Linked DNA regions of Homo sapiens: region 2 is linked to region 1. Evidence: fine-mapped expression QTL. A gene starts in region 1. The other region holds a variant in brackets. All regions are shown on one strand. Distances are from middle to middle. Region 1 holds the start of ATG9A (autophagy related 9A). Region 2 overlaps RETREG2 (reticulophagy regulator family member 2).

What was found. PIP is the estimated chance that this variant, and not a neighbour inherited with it, causes the effect. A credible set is the group of variants that fine-mapping cannot tell apart.
Region 2: its variant is the best candidate, but not a certain one, in a credible set for the expression of ATG9A in whole blood (TOPMed, PIP 0.78).

The regions. Positions count from the first base shown.
Region 1 is chr2:219,227,485-219,232,850 of GRCh38, forward strand. ATG9A (autophagy related 9A) reads right to left here and starts at 2,152. Exons shown (of 16, transcript NM_001077198.3): 1 at 2,051-2,152; 2 at 950-1,001; 3 at 438-569; 4 at 286-329. The coding sequence starts at 540. ANKZF1 (ankyrin repeat and zinc finger peptidyl tRNA hydrolase 1) reads left to right here and starts at 2,322. Exons shown (of 14, transcript NM_018089.3): 1 at 2,322-2,416; 2 at 2,744-2,921; 3 at 4,444-4,556; 4 at 4,776-4,878; 5 at 5,006-5,199. The coding sequence starts at 2,774. RefSeq lists enhancers at 1,092-1,640, 1,641-2,188, 2,189-2,736, 2,407-2,516 and silencers at 1,867-1,916, 2,127-2,256.
Region 2 is chr2:219,180,193-219,185,558 of GRCh38, forward strand. It overlaps RETREG2 (reticulophagy regulator family member 2), which reads left to right. Exons shown (of 9, transcript NM_024293.6): 4 at 1-53; 5 at 478-562; 6 at 870-1,013; 7 at 1,177-1,271; 8 at 1,448-1,583; 9 at 1,821-5,283. The coding sequence ends at 2,437. Among named protein-coding and RNA genes, the nearest start is that of RETREG2, 4.6 kb to the left of the region's middle. The variant A/T (reference allele first, on the strand shown) is at 2,259.

The DNA of each region.
Region 1 (5,366 bases):
AGCAGCAACAGAGACAGACTCCATCTCAAACAAAAAAAAAAGGAGGCTCACCCTTAGAAAGGCTTCTACAAATTAACACCACAAAGTGGACACAGGCACACAGATCTTGGTAAATGTGGGCTATCATTACTTAACGATGATTTCACCAGCCTCTTTCAGCCTCAGGATGAGCTCCATTCCCGTTTCCAGGTATTAGAGTCAAACCTACCCCCACCTCCCACCAGAGCCCCGGCTTAGAGAGACATTAAAGGTCCCAGAGCTCCAACTCAGAAACACAAAGGATATTCGAGAGAAGAAGAGGTCAAGGTTTTCAATATGGTGCCAAGGTGCTGTGGGATAGGAACAGAGATGTCAGAGCCCTGGGAGAACACAAGCCCCTTGCTCTCTCCATGTTCTTCCATCAACTCTCCCTATGGCTGTCATATCCAAGAACTCACACTTGCTCCCCTCGGCGACGTGCACCAACAGGTCCTCCTCCCCTGGGGGTGAATCACTATAGGAGGCCTCTAGGCGCTGGTATTCAGTGTCAAACTGCGCCATCACCACCGCCCCCTGTCCACCTTGACCACCTGCCAATAAGGAGGAAGAAGAGACCCTGATTCAGTTCCAGCTGCTGCCCATGGGCTGCCCTGCCTACTGCCAAAAGGAGAAAGTACCCTTGGGCTTTGTCCACTACCAGCCTCCTTGGCTCAGAGGCAGAGGAGTAGTGACACAAGAAAGGCAGTAAGCTCAGGGCTGGGGGAGCCTTAACTCTGGCCAGTCTGGGTGTCTACTGCTGCTTTCCTGGCCCAAAGCCAGAATCTGTCCCTTTGTTGGGGGCTGTTTCATCTTCTATTTAACGGACAGAAGAGTCCCTCCCCCGCCCATCCTGGGAACCCTGGTCTCCCAAGAGACTAACAGTTTGGAAGCACTTCACAAACAAATGTTTGAGAAAAGCACATGGCCCTACCAGCTCCATGGACAGTATGTGCTCCTCTCCAGCCCTCGATGCTCTGCAGCTGCTGGAGGAGAAGATGTCAGGCCCCAGAGAGTGGGCAGTGGGGATAAAAAGGAACCCAACCCTCCCAGCCATCCACACCCCACCAAGAGGAGGCCAAGCATGGGGCAGGAAGGCTGCAGTGGGGAAGAAGCACCCTTCCAGCCCAGGACTACGAGCACTTCCTCTGGCTGTGCTAAACCGGGCCACTCTTCCAACTCCAGGGTCTCAAGAAGTAACTTAGGGACCCCATGGAGAATGAGTGGGTACAGACCTGAGGCCAGGGGCGCCTCTGGACTATTTCTCCATTGCCCTACCTTAGCCTCAGAAATGACATACTTCTCAGGGTCCACAAAACCTCAAGAGTCTTTCCTGAAGAGGACCTTTCTGGTCAACCCCTTCTCTTACTTCCCTAGCACCAAAGATCCAGCCGGTGAGCAAACCTTCTGGATGGGAAACCTTGACTGGGTCAGTGTAGACCCCCGATCCTAGGTGAATTTGTGGGTTCCCTAGGTCCTGTAAGCCAGGCATGGTCGAGGTGGTACTCACCTGTCCGTGCAGCCCCTGGGGGCCGTGGATCTTGGCCCAGCCTGGCCCCGGTGGGATTCCCTGGGCTAGTGAGAGCCCTGCCCCTCAGGGAAGTCACCACTCACAGGGTCAGTGTGGACCAGGGCCCGTGGAGCCCCGGCCGGCTGGGCCTGGGCTCAGGGGTTCCTGCGGATGTTGCAGGGATCGAGTCAGCCTTACAGCTGATAGCCCGGGTGGGTTGGCTTGCCTCCCCACACCCAGCCGCGGCGACCGTGGACCGGAGTCCACCTCGCCCCAGGGTCGCCCGGCCCCAGGCCAAGGGCTGGCAGCTCCCAACAGCGGACAACCTCGCGCGCGGCCCCGGCGCCCGCGCGCGCCCCCGTCTGCGCGCGCCAGCAATCAAAACATTCCGGCTGCGCGCCCCCGCCCCGCCGGCGGCGCCCCTTCCTCCGTTACCCGCCGCGAGCTCACTTAGGGCTCCGCAGGCACCCCTGGGCAAGGCCAGACACGGGGCCTGGGATTCCAATAACCGGTCTCACGTCTTACCTCAGGAACAGCGACCCGGGTGATTCCAGAGGCTCCGCCGGCTCCGCTCGGCTCGGCTCGGCTCGGCGCGACCCGCGGCGCTAGGCCGGGTGTCTGCCACTCACTGTCACCCGCAGCCAGGCTGGCCAATAAGCACGGGGGGCGGAGACACAACGGCCAATTCTCGGCTTCAGGGACGGGACTAAAGTCTCGAGGCGGGTCTTGGACAGTCAGCGGCCCAATAGTGTGCTCTACGTGGGGCGGGGCTCAGGTGCGGACGCCGCCGGTTGTCCTCTTCGCTGCTCCGTAGTGACGGGGATTGTTGTGTTGCAGAAATCCGGCAATCGACCTGAGGACTTGCGAGCCGCTCAGCTCCCGGGACGTTTGGTGCGTCTTCTAAGGGCGTGGGCGAGTTTACGCGGGCCAGTTGTTGCTGGTCGCATGGGTAACGAAGAAAGTTCGGCTAGGCAAGCTCAGTGATTTTTAACTCTGTTGGACTCGATTTGGGAGCCGAATGCCTATTTCATTCTTTTGTGGGCTGAGACTGGGGGTTTGAGAAAGTGGACGGGGGCCAAGGTATTCATCTCACAGTTGGTAGCAGGATGAGAGACGAGAAGTCTTGCGGTGCAGGAGAAACCAAGTCAGGCAGGCAGGAGACGCAGCAGTAGGATCTCGTTTGCAGGAGCCCTGTTTCTTACACGCTTTCTACTCCAGGAGCTGCTGCTAAATAATTTCTGCTCAGCCATGTCGCCGGCTCCAGATGCAGCCCCGGCTCCTGCGTCGATCTCCCTGTTTGACCTCAGCGCGGATGCTCCGGTCTTTCAGGGCCTGAGCCTGGTGAGCCACGCGCCTGGGGAGGCTCTGGCCCGGGCTCCGCGTACTTCCTGTTCAGGTATCCTGGAAGGTTTCGTGTGAAACGTGACAGGGCTCCTTACAGCGTATTGCCCGTTCAGGGAACACATTCTTATTGGTATTCCCGAGCTTAGGAGGCCAATTGATTTATCTTTCTGCTTGATTAAATTCACTTAATCTCTGGGTAATGTCCAGCACAGCCCTTGTTTTCAAACAAGTCTTTTTGCCATTGCATGTATCTCCTCACGTTAACACCATTCCCTTCAAAAACACTTTAAACTTTGTAGAGATAAAATTCTCAGATGTATTCCACATTTAACCAGGCCCCACTCAAATTATTCCTTTTTGCTGAATATGAAACAATTTATTATTTGTTTCGTATAGCTTTATTTTTTGAGAGTCTCGCTCTGTCGCCCAGGCTAAAGTGCAGTGGCACGATCTCCACCCACTGCAATCTCCGTCTCCCGGGTTCAAGTGATTCTCCTGCCTCAGCCTCCCGAGTAGCTGGGACTACAGGCCCGCACCACCATGCCCGGCTAATTATTGTATTTTTAGTAGAGACGGGGTTTCACCATGTTGGCCAGGCTGGTCTCAAACTCCTGGCCTCAAGTGATCCGCCTGGGTCAGCCTCCCAAAGTGCTGAGATTACAGGCATGAGCCACCGTGTCGGTCCTGTTTTGTGTAACTTTAGTTTGGCTACATCTTTTCTTGCACCTCTCCTTAGACAAACTGTACACTAATTGGAAATGTAAACTTTAAAAAGCATTTGGGAAGTAGTTTTTGTGCAGTGAAAAATAATTTTAAACTGAACAGAAATTATTTTCTTTAGGATTCACCTAAACAATCTGTTTGGCTAATTTAAATTAGACAAGACTCAAACTCAGCCAGTGGGGAGGACTTGCAGACGCTGGATCTCGGGAGAGGGCTACGTTGGAGAAGTTTAACCGACCCCAAGGCTTTTACCCTCATCGGATTCTTTTCCAGAATGCCCAGGGCCAGTTTTTATTTACATTCGTTTTATTTATTTTATTTTTCTTCATCTTTTTTGAGACAGAGTCTCGTTCTGTTGCCCAGGCTGGAGTGCAGTGGTGTGATCTCGGCTCACTGCAAGCTCCGCCTCCCCGGTTCATGCCGTTCTCCTGCCTCAGCCTCCCAAGTAGCTGGGACTACAGGCATCCGCCACCACACCCGGTTAATTTTTTGTATTTTTAGTAGAGACGGGGTTTCACCGTGTTAGCCAGGATGGTCTTGATCTCCTGACTTCATGATCCGTCTGCCTTGGCCTCCCAAAGTGCTGGGATTACAAGCGTGAGCCGCTGCACCTGGCCAATTTTATTTTATTTACATTCATTTTACGTACATGTTTTCAGAAGCATGTTTATTGCATTAAGTGATTGCTGTACTGTTTATTTCATGACTATTAGAGTGTAAATTCCTTGAAGGCAGTATCATGCCATCTCTTTTGTATCCTCCTCTGCTTTGTATATCACACTCTGAATATAATTCTTGTCACTGTGGATTTGGGCTCCCTTTCTATGTCCAATTCCTCTTCCCTTATTTAGGCTCAGGGGAGAGAGAAAGCCCAGAAAGAAAGCTACTCCAGGGTCCTATGGATATTTCAGAGAAGTTATTTTGTTCAACTTGTGACCAGACCTTCCAGAACCACCAAGAACAGGTAATAGGTCAGGTGCAGAGCTAGATGTTAGAAGCAAAAGTGTAATGGTGGGTGGGGAGAGGTAGACATTTGATTTGTCTTAATAAAGGTCCATGCTTTGACTGAGGCAGTTGGTGTTACCTGGTTGTACTTCCTAGAATACTATAACTGGTCTTGGCCAGTACAAGGCCAGGCTGGGGCATATTTCCACCTTTATCTCACTCTTTGTCTTTGTACTAGAGGGAACATTATAAGCTTGACTGGCATCGGTTTAACCTAAAGCAACGTCTCAAGGACAAGCCTCTCCTGTCTGCCCTGGACTTTGAAAAGCAGAGCTCCACAGGTGATGAGTGGTAGGGGGACCTATGTAGGAGTAGGACATGGAGGTATAAGAAAGCACTAGTTTAGAGTTTGAGGAAAGAACAAAAATGGGGTACCAAACTTGTGTATCTCATATTGTCTGTCTTCAGGAGATCTTTCCAGCATCTCGGGATCAGAAGACTCAGACTCAGCCAGTGAGGAGGACTTGCAGACACTGGATCGGGAGAGGGCTACATTTGAGAAGTTGAGCCGACCCCCAGGCTTTTACCCTCATCGAGTTCTTTTCCAGAATGCCCAGGGCCAGTTTCTTTATGCCTACCGCTGTGTCCTAGGCCCTCATCAGGCAAGTGACAGTACAGGTTGCATGGCTAACCCCAGCCTTTTGTACACCCAGCCTAGATTTCCCTTAGCCTAGTGCATTTCTCCCTGCTTCTCTTCCTTCCTGTTGGTTGTGGGTATCACGCTTGACAACATAGTCTTGAATTGAAACTGGCCTGAATTGTGGAAGGG
Region 2 (5,366 bases), 47 kb before region 1:
TCCAGATTCACCTGCAGGAGCTGCTGCAGTACAAGAGGCAGAATCCAGCTCAGGTAACCTCCCCTACATCATACAACAGTTCACTACACTGAAGGGGAATAGAGGTGGCGGGGGATGGGAGTGGAGTGATATAAACTCCCCGCTTGGAGACCCTGAAAGAAGAGGCCTGGGCGCCTTCTTGAGGCAACATTCACAGCTAATCCCTGGTGCAGGAGGCAGTCTCACCTCAGGAAATAAGCTTTTGATAGCCTGACACTTTCTCCTGCCAAGGCAGACCAGTGTGAATTACAGGTGGTGGGCATTATGTATTGCCAGCTTCCTGAATTGGTGGTCTTGAGCATCCTCTTAACCAAACTGGACCACCCCATTCCTTGAGTACATACCCATCCTTCTACCAGCTGAGCAGTAGTTTCTTACCCAGCCGAGCGGGGCGCATATCTCAGCGTGATGTTCTTAGACTTTTGCTCTTCTCTGCAGTTCTGCGTTCGAGTCTGCTCTGGCTGTGCTGTGTTGGCTGTGTTGGGACACTATGTTCCAGGGATTATGATTTCCTACATTGTCTGTGAGTAGGGTCTGTCCCTGCCCTATTTAAAGCCCTCTCCTTTCTTCTTTCCTTGGACTGACCCAGAGGGAAGACTATGCTCTCTCTGCTCAGTTTCTGATTTGTGGAGATCTCCAGGGATGCTTTAGTATTAGTAACTGTGGAAGACTTACCTGGGGAGGAGGGCAGTGGATGTGGCAAGAAGAGGTTGGCACAGCCTTGGGAAAGGACCTTGCCTACCTTCAGCACTTCAGTTTAGGGACCAGTTGAATGGGGGCTCTTAGGAAATTGGCGTAGGGAGCTCTTAGTTCACGTTCTTAACCCATAGTGTTGAGTATCCTGCTGTGGCCCCTGGTGGTTTATCATGAGCTGATCCAGAGGATGTACACTCGCCTGGAGCCCCTGCTCATGCAGCTGGACTACAGCATGAAGGCAGAAGCCAATGCCCTGCATCACAAACACGACAAGAGGAGTAAGGGGCTGCCCTAAGCCAGGAGGGTGAAAGAGCGGGAGGGCCTTGGCTTGGGGTTCATGAGATGCCCTGGAATTGAGATCTTCTCCAGTTCTTTAGCTGTGTTTGTCTCCCCTCCCATCATTCATGCTTGGTCATTGCTCTACTACTCTTGCTTTTCTAGAGCGTCAGGGGAAGAATGCACCCCCAGGAGGTGATGAGCCACTGGCAGAGACAGAGAGTGAAAGCGAGGCAGAGCTGGCTGGCTTCTCCCCAGTGGTGAGGTCCAGGGAAAGCGGGGGTGTCAAATAGAAAGCCAGAGGAAAAATCTTTCTGCTTTGGAGCTGCCACCTCCAAAGGAGGTGGAAGCCAGAGGTTTTGGGAGAGGGGATGCTCCTGATAAATTGGTTCTCTTATCCCCTCACATGTCGTGTTCATCCTGGTTCTCCTGCCAGGTGGATGTGAAGAAAACAGCATTGGCCTTGGCCATTACAGACTCAGAGCTGTCAGATGAGGAGGCTTCTATCTTGGAGAGTGGTGGCTTCTCCGTATCCCGGGCCACAACTCCGCAGCTGACTGATGTCTCCGAGGGTATGGGGAGCCCTTTGCTGCCCTGCTCCCCGCCACAATCTTTGTGTTCCCTACCATGGGTACTTACTGTGCTCTCTGGCCCACTCACTCTCTAATTCTCTCAGCTCCTAAAAGACCTTAACACCTAAGGCTTGGCCCAGCTTTCCATGTCTTGAGTTCTCATCCTTGAACTCATTGTCTGTTGTGGCTAATCAGACCAGCAGCAGGCCCATTCTTAATTCTTTGTTCTCTGCACAGATTTGGACCAGCAGAGCCTGCCAAGTGAACCAGAGGAGACCCTAAGCCGGGACCTAGGGGAGGGAGAGGAGGGAGAGCTGGCCCCTCCCGAAGACCTACTAGGCCGTCCTCAAGCTCTGTCAAGGCAAGCCCTGGACTCGGAGGAAGAGGAAGAGGATGTGGCAGCTAAGGAAACCTTGTTGCGGCTCTCATCCCCCCTCCACTTTGTGAACACGCACTTCAATGGGGCAGGGTCCCCCCCAGATGGAGTGAAATGCTCCCCTGGAGGACCAGTGGAGACACTGAGCCCCGAGACAGTGAGTGGTGGCCTCACTGCTCTGCCCGGCACCCTGTCACCTCCACTTTGCCTTGTTGGAAGTGACCCAGCCCCCTCCCCTTCCATTCTCCCACCTGTTCCCCAGGACTCACCCCAGCCCCTGCCTGCCCCTGAGGAAGAAG[A/T]GGCACTCACCACTGAGGACTTTGAGTTGCTGGATCAGGGGGAGCTGGAGCAGCTGAATGCAGAGCTGGGCTTGGAGCCAGAGACACCGCCAAAACCCCCTGATGCTCCACCCCTGGGGCCCGACATCCATTCTCTGGTACAGTCAGACCAAGAAGCTCAGGCCGTGGCAGAGCCATGAGCCAGCCGTTGAGGAAGGAGCTGCAGGCACAGTAGGGCTTCCTGGCTAGGAGTGTTGCTGTTTCCTCCTTTGCCTACCACTCTGGGGTGGGGCAGTGTGTGGGGAAGCTGGCTGTCGGATGGTAGCTATTCCACCCTCTGCCTGCCTGCCTGCCTGCTGTCCTGGGCATGGTGCAGTACCTGTGCCTAGGATTGGTTTTAAATTTGTAAATAATTTTCCATTTGGGTTAGTGGATGTGAACAGGGCTAGGGAAGTCCTTCCCACAGCCTGCGCTTGCCTCCCTGCCTCATCTCTATTCTCATTCCACTATGCCCCAAGCCCTGGTGGTCTGGCCCTTTCTTTTTCCTCCTATCCTCAGGGACCTGTGCTGCTCTGCCCTCATGTCCCACTTGGTTGTTTAGTTGAGGCACTTTATAATTTTTCTCTTGTCTTGTGTTCCTTTCTGCTTTATTTCCCTGCTGTGTCCTGTCCTTAGCAGCTCAACCCCATCCTTTGCCAGCTCCTCCTATCCCGTGGGCACTGGCCAAGCTTTAGGGAGGCTCCTGGTCTGGGAAGTAAAGAGTAAACCTGGGGCAGTGGGTCAGGCCAGTAGTTACACTCTTAGGTCACTGTAGTCTGTGTAACCTTCACTGCATCCTTGCCCCATTCAGCCCGGCCTTTCATGATGCAGGAGAGCAGGGATCCCGCAGTACATGGCGCCAGCACTGGAGTTGGTGAGCATGTGCTCTCTCTTGAGATTAGGAGCTTCCTTACTGCTCCTCTGGGTGATCCAAGTGTAGTGGGACCCCCTACTAGGGTCAGGAAGTGGACACTAACATCTGTGCAGGTGTTGACTTGAAAAATAAAGTGTTGATTGGCTAGAACTGCTGCCTCCCTGACTGTGAGCTGCCTTCCACACCCTGCACTGCACTGTGTTCTCTCCTCACCCTTAACCTGCTTCACTCCAGTCTGTTCTGGCTGTTTATTACCTTGTTGCAAAACAGGGCCGAAGCAAGGATTACCTTGACAACCCTAGCTTCTCCTTAGCCATCTTCCTTGACAGTGTGATCTGTTTAGTGAGATTTAGCATGTGTGAATAAAGTATATGCAGGAGGAAATTGCTTTGTCTTCCCAATCGGTAGAAATTCGGGACCATAAAAATTGTGTTTTACCATGTGGCCTACAACCTTAACACTGCTTTCTTAAGAAGTCTTCACCCATCTACATGCTAACAACTCACTCAGCCTGGATTTATCTTTACTGGGGAAGCCAAACAAGCAATAGAGGACCTTTACCTGTGTTAGAAATGAGTTGGAGCCAAGGAACACTGAAGAAATAGTATCTTAACAGTTACTGAGTCCATTGTATGTGCTTGGCTCTGCTCTGAGTGATTTATATGTATTAAGATTTTTCCTCACAGGTCAGATATATACTGTTACTAACTTCATTTTATAGACAGGTTAAGCTTCCTGAAGGCCACAGGTCCCAGTAAATTGTGGAGCCAGAACCCAAACCCAAGAAGTTTTGGCTTCAGCAAATGCATCAGACAGCCCCTGTCCATTAATAGGGCACAGGTAGGAAGATGCACAAGGATGTGGGAACTATAGAGAACCAATCTGATGCCTTGGCTTAACAAAGAGTGGACATGGCAAGCCTTCCTCTTTGGGGAAGAAAAGCCCAGAACTGAGCAGATGGCCTCCTTTATGAGTTCATGTCCTCCGCCTTCAGCTGGAGGTACCATATGGCGATGCTACCTGTCTTTCTGCTGGAGGTACCATATGGTAATGCTGCCTGGCTGTCTGCTGGAGGTACCATATGGTAATGCTGCCTGTCTTTCTGAGGTTGACTTTTATGCCATGTCTTTCCTAAGTGTGTAAGAATTTTTCTGTTTGCTTCACATTTGACTGAGAATCATTCTAGGGTTTGATTGAGCCCCTGTCCTGTGCCACTAAAGGAACTCGAACTTTTCATCACTTAGAGATTTCAGAGGGGAATGGAAAAACAGTTCTAATCAATAAGCAAGCAATTCAAGAAAAATAGAATTAATCAGGCAATGACTGCAACATGTCCTATCTTTAATCTATTTTCTTATTAAGCTTGGACATTGACAATAGAACCAGAAGCTTGTAGCTGGATCAAAATATTCTCCATAGGCCTGGAGTTTCATGAGGGTCTATTCTTTTGTTGTTGTTGTTTTGGTTTTTTGTTTTTTGTGGGTTTTTTTTTTTTTTTTTTTGAGACGGAGTCTTGTTCTGTTGCCCAGGCTGGAGTGCAATGGTGCAGTCTTGGTTCACTGCAACCTCTGCCTCCCAGGTTCAAACAATTCTCCTGCCTCAGCCGTCCAAGTAGCTGGGATTACAGGTGCATGCCACGATGCCTGGCTATTTTTTGTATTTTTAGTAGAGGTGGGGTTTCACCATGTTGGCCAGGCTGGTCTCGAACTCCTGACCTCAGGTGATTCACCCACCTCGGCCTCCCAAAGTGCTGGGATTACAGGTGTGAGCCACGGCGCCCAGCCTCATGAGGGTCTATTCTTTACATTCACCATGGTCTGATGGTTGCTACATGTTTGTCTATGATTTTTTTTTTCTATTATCAGGTGTCTTGGCCGGTTCATGCCCCACGATGAAAGGGCCAGAGGTTTTCATATGAGTAAAAGAAAAAAGCAGAAATGTGAAACCTACAATTAGGCTAAACAAAAATCAACTGGAAAAGTACAGGCTGAGGGGAGAAGAGTTGGCTACATGTTTATGTTAGGGGAGGAGGGAGTACATTTTAGCTATGTATTCAAACAGCTAATAGTTTAATGTTGCTGCTTATAAACTTAATTTTAGGCTGCATTAATAAAAGTGTAGTCTCCAAAACAAGAAATGTGATAATTCTAGTGTCCTGTGCACGAATATCCTAATACTTCCAGAGGATGGCTTGCTAGGCTTGTGGGCAAATTGTA